Linked DNA regions of Homo sapiens. The protein of the gene in region 3 purifies or fractionates together with the protein of the main gene of each other region. This does not show direct contact. Each region holds a gene or a part of one and is shown on either strand. Other genes may lie near its edges.

Region 1 (3,656 bases), on a different chromosome or scaffold from region 3:
ATATGCCTCCTGGCTGTAGGTAAGTTTTATTTGGCCCAAACAAACTAAAAGTTGTTTCAGAATTATTTTCTAATATTTAAAAGTTGAGGGATTTCACATAAAGATCTGGGTGTCTGACTCTCTTGAAAAACTTAAGTATCTGGTAACAGTGGGCATGCATTTTCCTAACTAGAATTGAATAGTGGCTTCCCTTTTAGGTGGGAAATGTGCTTTCCATTTTGCTGTCATCCAGTTTTGCCCCTTAAGTTACAATATAGTGGTGTAGTGTGGAGCTTTAGATGCAGACTCCTGAGATTGAATTCTGCTCCCTCATTTACTTGCGCAAGCAATTTAACTTCTCTGAGCCTCCATTTCCTCATCTATCAAATAGGAGTGATATGGTTCTGGTAGGGATTGAGATATTATATAGCACATAAAACATTGCTGGCATACAGTAAAAATAAACATTGTTATCATCATCATTATCACCATCATCACCACCACCTTCACTACTGCCTATCTGACCCCAGTAGATATATATTCTGTATGTATATATATATATATGTATTCTGATCCCAGGACGTTTATTCTGTAAACTTATGTTGAGTGTCTAGTCAAGTGGATTTTCTCAAATGGGGTTCCATTAACTTATTTCCCATGCAGCCAGAATGGTACTAGTTTTGTACCACCTTTCAGAAAATTGAGAATATAGTCACTCAAACCATTTTCTGTGTTCTGTGGTTCAGATAAGGAACCTGATTAAGTGTCGAGTAGTGTACTCAGCACCAGGGTAAAGATGGCAGACACAGTCCCATGGAACTGGCTGGCTGTCCATGGAAGGTAAGTAAGTACCAACAGCAGAGTGGTGAGTTTTATCACGGGAGGACACGGTAGCAAAGAGGATCTAACATGGCCTAGTAGTCATGGAATTCCTTCCTTAGAAGATCTGTTTAAAGGTGTATCCTTATGAGAGGCCTGGGATTCCTTACGGGGTTTTTCAGAAACATTAAAACTGTTTCATTAGTCATGGAATAAAAAGCTATGGATGTTGAAATCCAAGTTAGCTTCAAAGACTCTTATGCTGGCTTAGGTTAGATAATCTTTTAAACTATTAAAAATAGAACTAGTTTATTATGGAAATGGTTATATACCTAAGAACATTTAATAATTTTGTTTGAGTAATGTACATTTTTATCAATGAAGGAAAATATCCAGAATATGTAACCTACCGTTTTAAGTAACATGATTTAAAAACTCTTCTGCTTTTGGTGATAGTTGTCTTATCAACTTTAAATGATAAGGTTTATTGAGTTATAAAAATAATAACTTGGCCAAATGCAGTGGCTTATACCTGTAATCCCAATGCTTTGTGAGGCCAAGGTGGAGGAGGCTCACTTGAGACCAGGAGTTGGAGGTTACAGTGAGCTGTGATTATGCCACTGCACTCCAGGCTGGGCAACAGAGTGAGACCCTGTCTCTAAATAATAATAACAATAACTCAACAAAAGAAAGTTTGTTATTTATGTTTTTACTGACTGGGTATTTTTACCTTATTTTATATTTCAAATTTGGCATTTTATTGAGGTCCTGAGAAGGTTCTTTTGGAGTCTACTTTTATTATGGGCCATTCTAGATTATGTCACCAGTTTATCTAAAGTGGACACTAAATATAGGACAGTTTTGGTGTTAGGCCAAAGACCAGGGGACTTGAAAAATGAAAACCTCACCTGACAGATTCTACTCTGTTTTTTTTCCTTCTTCCCGAAATCCATTATTATTTTTTGCTTAATCTCTCCTTCAATATATGGGTAAGCCTTTAATCACTGTTTCGGAGGTTTAGTTGACTTCTGTAAATAGAAGAAGAGTTAGTGTATTTGATCATAGTTTCCAAACCACTTTTAATACTGTACCTTACTTGAAAATTAACCAGCTAAACTATCGAGTAACAGTGAGTTCTTGTTGCTTTCTGTTATTTCCAGGCTGTTTCCTAACCCTCCTAGTACTGGTTTTGAAAACTAAATTAGCCATTCAAAAAAACTCTTAGACACTTTGAGCAAACAGTAGCTTCCTTGAAGATAGCATTTGTGTCTAATTCATCTTTTCATCTCTCCATTGTACCTGGCAGGATGTCTTCCACAAAGGAGACATTAATAAGTATCTGGTGAAGAAAGATTAAATGGTTGAGAGAGTCCAGCATCTGTTATGTGATATATGTGACCCTTCATAATTATGATTCTGGATCCTTGGCTGCTAATGAGATTTACTGTGGCTGAGTTTAGTGATACAGATTTTGGCATGTAGATGATAGTCTCCAAAAAAGTAGAGATCATGTTTTTTTTTTTTTTTCCGTTTTGTCATTCACCATTTTATCCCTAGCCCTTAAGATTTTGCCAGACACATGGTAGATATTCCATACTTGTCAAACAATGAATGAATGAATTCCCAAGAGCATCACTTGTTATTGGTCAGTAGACTTTCTAATAGTGAGAGATGGAACCGGAATTTGAAAGAAGTAATGGAAAATGGTTAAGTACCTTATGAATTTTAAATTAATATACCATAGGTGTGGGCATTAATTTTGAGAAACAAGACTCTTCTGTTCAACACATACTTTAGCAACTGTCAACACTTGTTTTCAAGTGTTCTCTTCCAATTTTAAAATGCCAGTTTACCTTTCAGATTTAGAGTATTTTGTTGTTGTTAGTTTATTATGGCAGTTTTCTTGCTAAAGTTATATTTAAAGTGTGACTTTCTAACTTCTAGAGGAGAGGAACTTTTGTTAAGGTGGTACTTTTGGAACCTTAATGAAAAACACACCTTAGAGAAGGTGAATTTAGAGTTCTGCTAAGCACATTCATTTACTCTTCTATTATAAACTGGTTTTGTAATATTTTATAAAATTGTCTCACTGGTTGATTTCACAATGTAAACTGGGAGGATTCTTAGGATTCCTTGGGTTGGATTAGAACAGGTTCAAGAGATGAAGATTTGTGTTGGTAGGGGCTTGTTTCCAAACGTTTGTCCTTGGCATGCTCTTTGTTAAGCCATCACATGTTTGAAAGTTAAACCTTGAATTGGTGCCATGGTTTGCATTTAAAAAAATGTATTTTATTATGGTAAGAACACAACATAAGATCTACTCTCTTACCACATTTTTAAGTGTACAATAAAGTATTGTAAACTGTAGGTACAATGTTGTATAGCAGATCTCTGGCACTGATTCATCTTGTATAATTGAAACTTTATGCCGCTTGATTAGCTCTTTCCCATCCTCCCAGCCCTGGTCATCATCTTTCTACTCTCTGATTCTATGAGTTTGACTATTAGACGTACATTTTTGTTTTTGCTATAAGCATCTGTCCTGTTGCTATGCTGATCATTTATTTACTCTGTAGTTTTGGAAATGACCTGCTTACAAGATAACCATGCCTCCCCTTATGTTAAAAAACTGCCATATGGATAAAGGGCAGTTAAGACCTTTACAACTGGTAGAAACCAAGTAGAAAATTCAGTTTGAAGGACCAAATTATGTTGCAGCTGCTCTGAGGAGGAGATTTGTTGCCAGAGCATGAGTGTTTTCATAATTGTTTGTGATCAGAAAATTCAGAGCTCTGATTTCTGCATTAGCCCTAAGTCTGCCCTTTGGCACCTTCATTTAGTGATTGGATCATTCAAGG
Region 2 (3,656 bases), on a different chromosome or scaffold from region 3:
TCCCCTGGTTCCAGCTCTTTAGCTGCTCTGGTTAACTGGCTCTCATGGGATTGGGGGTGTGTGATTGCAGTCACCGGAAGAAAAGAATGCGACAGCTGCAGAAGAAAATAAAGAATGGAACACTGAACATAAAGCAGGACGACCCCTTTGAACTCTTCATAGCAGCCACAAACATTCGCTACTGCTACTACAACGAGACCCACAAGATCCTGGGCAATACCTTCGGCATGTGTGTGCTGCAGGTGGGTGGCTTCCTCTAACCTGTGATTGAAGTCAGAGTCTTGAGGGTTGCTTGGGCTGCCTGGCTTTCCACTGGGAACAGATGTACAGTAAGGAGAGGAGAGTCCCATGTTCCCTATGCCCAAGCATTATTAGTGGAAGTCCTGGCCACTTTCCAAAGTACACTCGGTCACCTACCCCATATAAAAAGAGAATTTTAAATCAGCACTTGTCTAGAGACACCAGAACTGAAGTGATGAGTTATTATAACGGGTTCTAACTAGCTAAAGCTGATAAAGCAAATGCCAGAGACTTTGAGTGCCTCTAGGACCCTAGGTCCTTATTGGCATTCACCAAAGACTTTTTTTGTCCAGTGAGCAATGGGACTTGTTTTCCAACCGGATATAGACCAATGCACTTAAATGTCCTGTCCAGAGTGCCTGAGTGGCATACCCACCATGAAGGCCCCTCTCCCCTTTTCTAGCCCTTAAAAACCCCTCACTTTACCTCTCAGAGACTACTTGGTGAATTTCTGCACTGGTGTGTATTCTCTTGCCTGGCAAGTTAATAGACTAAGTTTCACTTTGTGTGTGTGTGTGTGCATGTGTGTGTAAGCACTGGTGGTCTTTGTTTTATTCTTTGTTTCTTTGATTCCTGTGCCACCTCCCTTCCCCATTCTCCCAAAAAAGACAAGACAAAATTAAGCACAAATCCTCACATTTTTGTGTGTTTATCATATACACTTACAACTGTGCCCATTATTATGTCAAGTTACATACCTTGCAAAATATGGGTTGTCTCCTATACTGCTGGCTTGCATCTCACCTTGGAGGCCAAGAAAGAGGGCATTATGCCTCATTTTCACCTTTACTCAGGGAAATGCCCTGGGTTATCACTGATTGGTAGGGAGTGGTCTTCTACTTGCTGCCATGATCAATTGCCTGAATAATGACTCCTGTGAGCAGTAGCTCCCCCATGTAGTATAGTTTTGTCAAACAGGTTTGAGCTATAAATGTCAGAAAATGTAAGATGTTTCTGAAATTCAAGTATGAATCAGTGAAGGTTGGAAAATTTGTTTCCAAATAGGATTTTATCAGAGACATTTTTGACATATAAAACTAACAACGTCTCTAATAAGAGACCCGTTTTTGGCATATAAAACCAGGTATTCGTATATTCGAGGGTTTGGCCCTCTTCTGTGGTACCCCTGTGTGTGTATCCTGGGAAGTCAAGGTGGGAACAGGTATGGTCTTGGCTTTGTGCTCTGAAGTCTTCTTTTTGCCTTATCACCTGGCTTTTGGTTAAGAGTCCCTTGGGTTGGGCCAGGCGCGGTGGCTCATGCCTGTAATCCCAGCACTTTGGGAGGCTCAGGTGGGTGGTGAGCCAAGATTGCGCCACTGCACTCCAGCCTGGGCGACAGAGCAAGACTCCATCTCAAAAAAAAAAAAAAAAAAAAAAAAGTCCTTTGGGTTGCTATTTGCATGACCAGCCCTTTCTAACGCCCCCTTCTTCCAGGATTTTGAAGCCTTAACTCCAAACTTGCTGGCCAGGACTGTAGAAACAGTGGAAGGTGGTGGGCTAGTGGTCATCCTCCTACGGACCATGAACTCACTCAAGCAATTGTACACAGTGACTATGGTAAGCATCTGTTTTTTAACTTAATTGTGAGGGTTCAAGTAAATCTGTTTTTGCTGTGTTCTGCTTTCTTTAAAGAATTCCTGTTGGGCAGCTCCAGTGAGTAGTCAGCACAGCCTCTGGGCTAAGAGCTCTTTGATTTTAACTAATGAAAAAGTCACTACAGTTAAATCTCAGGGTCCATGAGTATGCCTAGGAATCTCTGAATTTCACCTTTGTTTTCAGGCACTTGCAAATTCTACACCAGTGAGATTCAGATATGATACAGCTTTTATGTAGTTAAATTTTCTGGAATGATATTGTACAAGGAGCAATGCCAGTGCCTAAATTTGTGTATTGCAAAAAAAGGACCATGTGCAGACTGCTCACTGGCCCTTATCCTAATGGATGACGAAGGAACATTTGCCAGTTGTACTCCAGTTTGGCAAGAATTTCAACTCCAGCAGAGATTGTGTTCTCCCAAAGCAAAAGACACTGACTGAGGACATGGTGAGGAATTAGGGATATGTCTCACCTGATGCAGAGCTGGTCTCCTCACTTTATCAGCGTTGCCAAGTCAGTGTTCAGAGGCAAGTTTTAAGTCATGCCCATGTCCAGCAGCTCAGTAATGGTGGTCGGATTGGACTTAGGGTTTCCTGAGCTGCATTTATCTGATGAAATGGACTTTCCTCAAATCTTAGGGGCTGTTTCCTGTCATTACTTCTCCCTTCATCACTTGCACTACAGCCCTTTTGGCCTCCTCAAATGTCCTCAGACATGCCCAGCACACACTCCTGCGAGGGCCTCGGCACTTGCTGTTCCCACTGGAATGTGCTTCCTCTGGACCTCTGCCTGGCTCGCTTCCTCATTGCATTCAAGCCCCTGCTCAGATATCACCTCATCCATGTGGTCTTTCCTCACACCCTGTTTACAGTAGGCAGCTCCGCCTGTCACTCCTTAACCGGCTTTATTTTTCTTCAAAGCACTTGACAATGACCTAAAGTTATTATTATTATTTGTCTGTCCTCCTGTACTAGTCTCTAAATTTCACTGGAGGGCCGATCACAGTGGCTCACGCCTGTAATCCTAGCACTTTGGGAGCCTGAGGTGGGCGGATCACCTGAGGTCAGGAGTTTGAGACCAGCCTGGCCAACATGGTGAAACCTCGTCTCTACCAAAAATACAAAAAAAATTAACCAGGTGTGGTGGTGCACACCTGTAATTCCAGCTACTAGGGAGGCTGAGGCAGGAGAATTGCTTGAACTCAGGAGGCGGAGGTTGCGGTGAGCTGAGGTCACGCCACTGCACTCCAGCCTGGGCAACAGAGCAAGACTCCGTCTCAAAATAAATAAATAAGTAAATAAATTTGATGGGAACAGAGAGTTAGTTTTCTTTGCTGTTGCATTTCCAGATCTTAGAAGAGTTCCTGGCATTTAGTAAGCATTCCTTAGATAGTTGAGAGTGAATGAATGACTTTGTGCTCACATCAGTTTGTTCTTCCTCTCCCTCTGACATAGCTACCTACTTACCCTTCAGGCCTCAGCTTATCTCAGAGAGGCCCTCCCTCACTACCCTACATAAGTGACCCCCACTTGCTATCCGTGCAGTCTATATTTCATATGTAGCATTTGTCAAAATTTGTATTTATCTACTAATTTTTCTTCCTCCATCCATTATACTCCAAGTGCCATGAGAACAGAGGTCATGCTTTGTTCATTAGTGTATGCACAGCATATCTGGCACACAGCATGCCAATTTTATGAAATAAATGAATATAACTTAGGATGCTAGGAAAAATGTGGAAAAGTGAAAGATTTTAATAA
Region 3 (3,656 bases):
TGATCCCTATCCCAGATAACTGATTTTTTTTTTTTTTTTTTGAGACAGAGTCTTGCTCTGTCACCCAGGCTGGAGTGCAGTGGCATGATCTTGGCTCACTGCAAGCTTCGCCTCCCAGGTTCATACCATTCTCCTGCCTCAGTCTCCCCAGTAGCTGGGACTACAGGCACCTGCCACCATGCCCAGCTAATTTTTGTATTTTTAATAGAGACGGGGTTTCATTGTGTTAGCTAGGATGGTCTTGATCTCCTGACCTCGTGATCCGCCCGCCTCGGTCTCCCAAGTGCTGGGATTACAGGCGTGAGCCACTGCGCTTGGCCTAACTGATGTTTTTATCACTGTACATTAACTTTCATTTCCTAGAATTTCCTCTTATTTTATATAAATGGAACCACACAATATGTAGTTATCCTTCTTTCACTCAGCATAATTGAGAGTCATCCCTGTTGTTAAGTGTATTAGTAGCTGATTCCTCTTTATTGCTGAGTAATATTGCATTGTATGGATGTACCTCAGTTTATTAATACATTTACCTACCAATGGACATGTTGGTTGTTTCCAATTTTAGTTATTAACAAATAAGGCTTCTATAAAAATTTTGTTTACAAGGCTTTGTATGGACATATGTTTTTATTCCTCTTGGTTAAATACCTAGGAGTAGAATGGCTGGATCATATAATAGGTATATGCTTAACCTTTAAGAAAACTGTCAATGTTTAGTTATCCGTAAGTATTTCATAGTTTTTGGTGCTATTTGATATGGTTTGGTTTTAGGTCCCCACCCAAATTTCATGTTGAATTGTAATCCCTACGTGTCGAGGGAGGGAAGTAACTGGATTATGGGGCTGGTTTCCCCCATGCTGTTCTTGTAATAGTGAATTCTCACAAGATCTGATGGTTTCATAAATGGTAGTTTTTCCTTTGTTCTCACATGCTCTCTCACTTGCCTGCCGCCGCCGTGTAAGACATGCCTATTTCCTCTTTCACCATGATTATAGTTTCCTGAGTCTTTCCCAGCCGTGTGGAACTGAGTCAATTAACCCTCTTTCCTTTATAAATTACCCAGTCTTGGGTATTTCTATCAGTGTGAGAATGGACTAATACACTATTAAAATTATATTTTTAAAATTTATATTTCTGATTGACACTAGTATATAGAAATATGATTGATTTTTTTACATTAATCTTCTCCATCAATCTGGCTAAGCTCACTTAGTTCTTATTAGTCCTAGACCTTTTTTTTTTTTTTTTTTTGAGTTGGAGTCTCGTTCTATTGCCCAGGTAGGAGTGCAGTGGCGCAATCTTGGCTCACTGCAACCTCTACCTCCCAGGTTCAAGCAATTCTTCTGCCTCAGCCTCCTGAGTAGCTGGGATTACAGGTGTGTGCCACCACGCCCGGCTAATTTTTGTATTTTCAGTCGAGACGGGGTTTCACCATGTTGGCCAGGCCAGCGTCAAACTCCTGATCTCAAATGATCTGTCCGCCTCAGCCTCCCAAAGTGCTGGGATTACAGGCGTGAACCACTGCGCCTGGCGTCCTAGAGCTTTTTAATAGATTCCATTGGATTTTCTATGTAAAGATTATGTCATCTGTGAATACAGTTTTAATTCTTCCTTTCCAGGCTTTTATTTCTTTTTCTTATTGCACTGGCTGCAATCCCCAAGTAACAATGTTAAATAGAGATGGTGAGAGCAGATTACTTGTCTTGTTTCTTCTCTTAGGGAGAAAGCATTTAGTCTTTCACCATTTGTATATGCATTTTATCACTGGAGAAGTTTTCTTCTATTTCTAGTTTACTGAGATTTTTTTTTTTTTCGAGAGTGAACATTGGGTTTTGTTAAGTGCTTTTTCTGAATCTACTGTGATGATCATATGATTTTTTTTTTTCGAGACAGGGTCTTGCTCTGTTTTCCAGGCTGGACTGCAGTGGCATGACTGTGGTTCACAGTAGCCTTGACCTCTGGGGCTCAAGCAGTCCTCCTACCTTAGCCTCCCAAGTAGCTGGGACCACATACTACACCTGGCTGATTTTTTTTTGTTTGTTTGTTTTTTAGTAGAGATGAGGTCTTGTTATGTGGTCGAGGCTGGCCTTGAACTCCTGAGCACAAGCAGTCCTCCCACTGTCACCTCTTAAAGTGTTGGGATTACAGGTGTGAGCCACTGCACCCAGCCACTTTTCATTTGTTAATATGGTGAAATATCGCATCGATTTTCAAATACAGCCATTTGTTGCCTAACAATGGAGATGCATTCTGAGAAATGCATTGTTAGGTAATTTTGTTGTGCAAACCTCATAGAGTGTACTTTCACAAATCTAGATGTTGTAGCCTACTACACACCTAGGCTATATGGTAAAGCCTGTGGCGCTTAGGCTACAAAACTGTACAGCATGTGACTGCATTTAATACCATAGGCAATTGTAATAGAATGCTAAGTATTTATGTATCTAGATGTATCTATACATAGAAAAGGTACAGTAAAAATACAATATAAAAGATAAAAAAATGGTACACCTGTATAGGGCATTGACCATGAATGGAAGTTGCAGGCTTGGAAGTTGCTCGGGTGAGTCAGTGAGTGAGTGGTGAATGAGTGTGAAGGCCGAGGACATTACTGTGCACTACTGTCGACTTTACAAACACAGTACACTTAAGCTATACTGAATTTATAGAAAACATTTTTTCTTTCTTCAATAATAAATTAACCTTAGCTTACTGTGACTTTTTTTACTTTATAAACTTTAATTTTTTATATTTTGATTCTTATAATAATACTTAGCTTAAAACACAAACACATTGTACAGCTGTACAAAAATACTCTATGTCCTTATTCTATAAACTTTTTTCTATTTATTACTTTTTAAAATTTTTTGTTAAAAACTAAGACACAAACACACACGTTAGCCTAGGCCTACATAGAGTCAGGTTCATCAGTATCACTCTCTTCCACCTTGACATCTTGTCCTGCTGAAAAGTCTTCAGGGGCAGTACATGCATGGAGCTGTCATCTCCAGTAACAGTGCCTTCTTCTGGATACCTCCTGAGGGACCTGCTTGAGGCTGTTTTATAGTTAACATTTTACAGTTAAATTACTTATTTGATTTCCAAATTGTACTTTAGGTTTGGAGGTGCGTGTACAGGTTTGTTACATGGGTAAATTGTGTGTTGTCGGGGTTTGGTGTACAGTTTATTTTGTCATTTTTTTTTTTTTGAGACAGAGTCTCAGTCTTTCGCCAGGCTGGAGTGCAGTGGCGCGATCTGGCTCACTGCAACTTCTGCCTGCAACCTCTGCCTCCCGGGTTCAAGTGATTCTCCTGCTTTAGCCTCCCGAGTAGCTGGGACTACAGGTGTGTGCCACCACGCCCAGCTCATTGTTTGTTTGTTTGTTTTTTGAACGGAGTCTCGCACTCTCGCCCAGGCTGGAGTGCAGTGGCGCCATCTCGGCTCACTGCAAGCTCCGCCTCCCAGGTTCACGCCATTCTCCTGCCTCAGCCTCCTGAGTAGCTGGGACTACAGGCGCCCGCCACCACCCCTGGCTAATTTTGTGTATTTTTAGTAGAGACGGGTTTCACCGTGTTAGCCAGGATGGTCTCGATCTCCTGACCTTGTGATCCGCCTGCCTTGGCCTCCCAAAGTGCTGGGATTACAGGCGTGAG

Evidence for each region.
Region 1: the proteins of DIS3L2 (region 3) and FTO fractionate together in Homo sapiens (co-fractionation; one large-scale study listed by BioGRID). This does not show direct contact.
Region 2: the proteins of DIS3L2 (region 3) and NAT10 purify together in Homo sapiens (co-immunoprecipitation; one large-scale study listed by IntAct). This does not show direct contact.

Annotation. Positions count from the first base shown.
Region 1 is NC_000016.10:53,710,636-53,714,291, forward strand, and holds part of FTO (alpha-ketoglutarate-dependent dioxygenase FTO), read left to right. Parts: intron 1-3,656.
Region 2 is NC_000011.10:34,111,982-34,115,637, forward strand, and holds part of NAT10 (RNA cytidine acetyltransferase), read left to right. Parts: intron 1-70; coding exon 71-242; intron 243-1,734; coding exon 1,735-1,857; intron 1,858-3,656. UniProt on the Homo sapiens protein: RNA cytidine acetyltransferase that catalyzes the formation of N(4)-acetylcytidine (ac4C) modification on mRNAs, 18S rRNA and tRNAs.
Region 3 is NC_000002.12:231,968,075-231,971,730, forward strand, and holds part of DIS3L2 (DIS3-like exonuclease 2), read left to right. Parts: intron 1-3,656.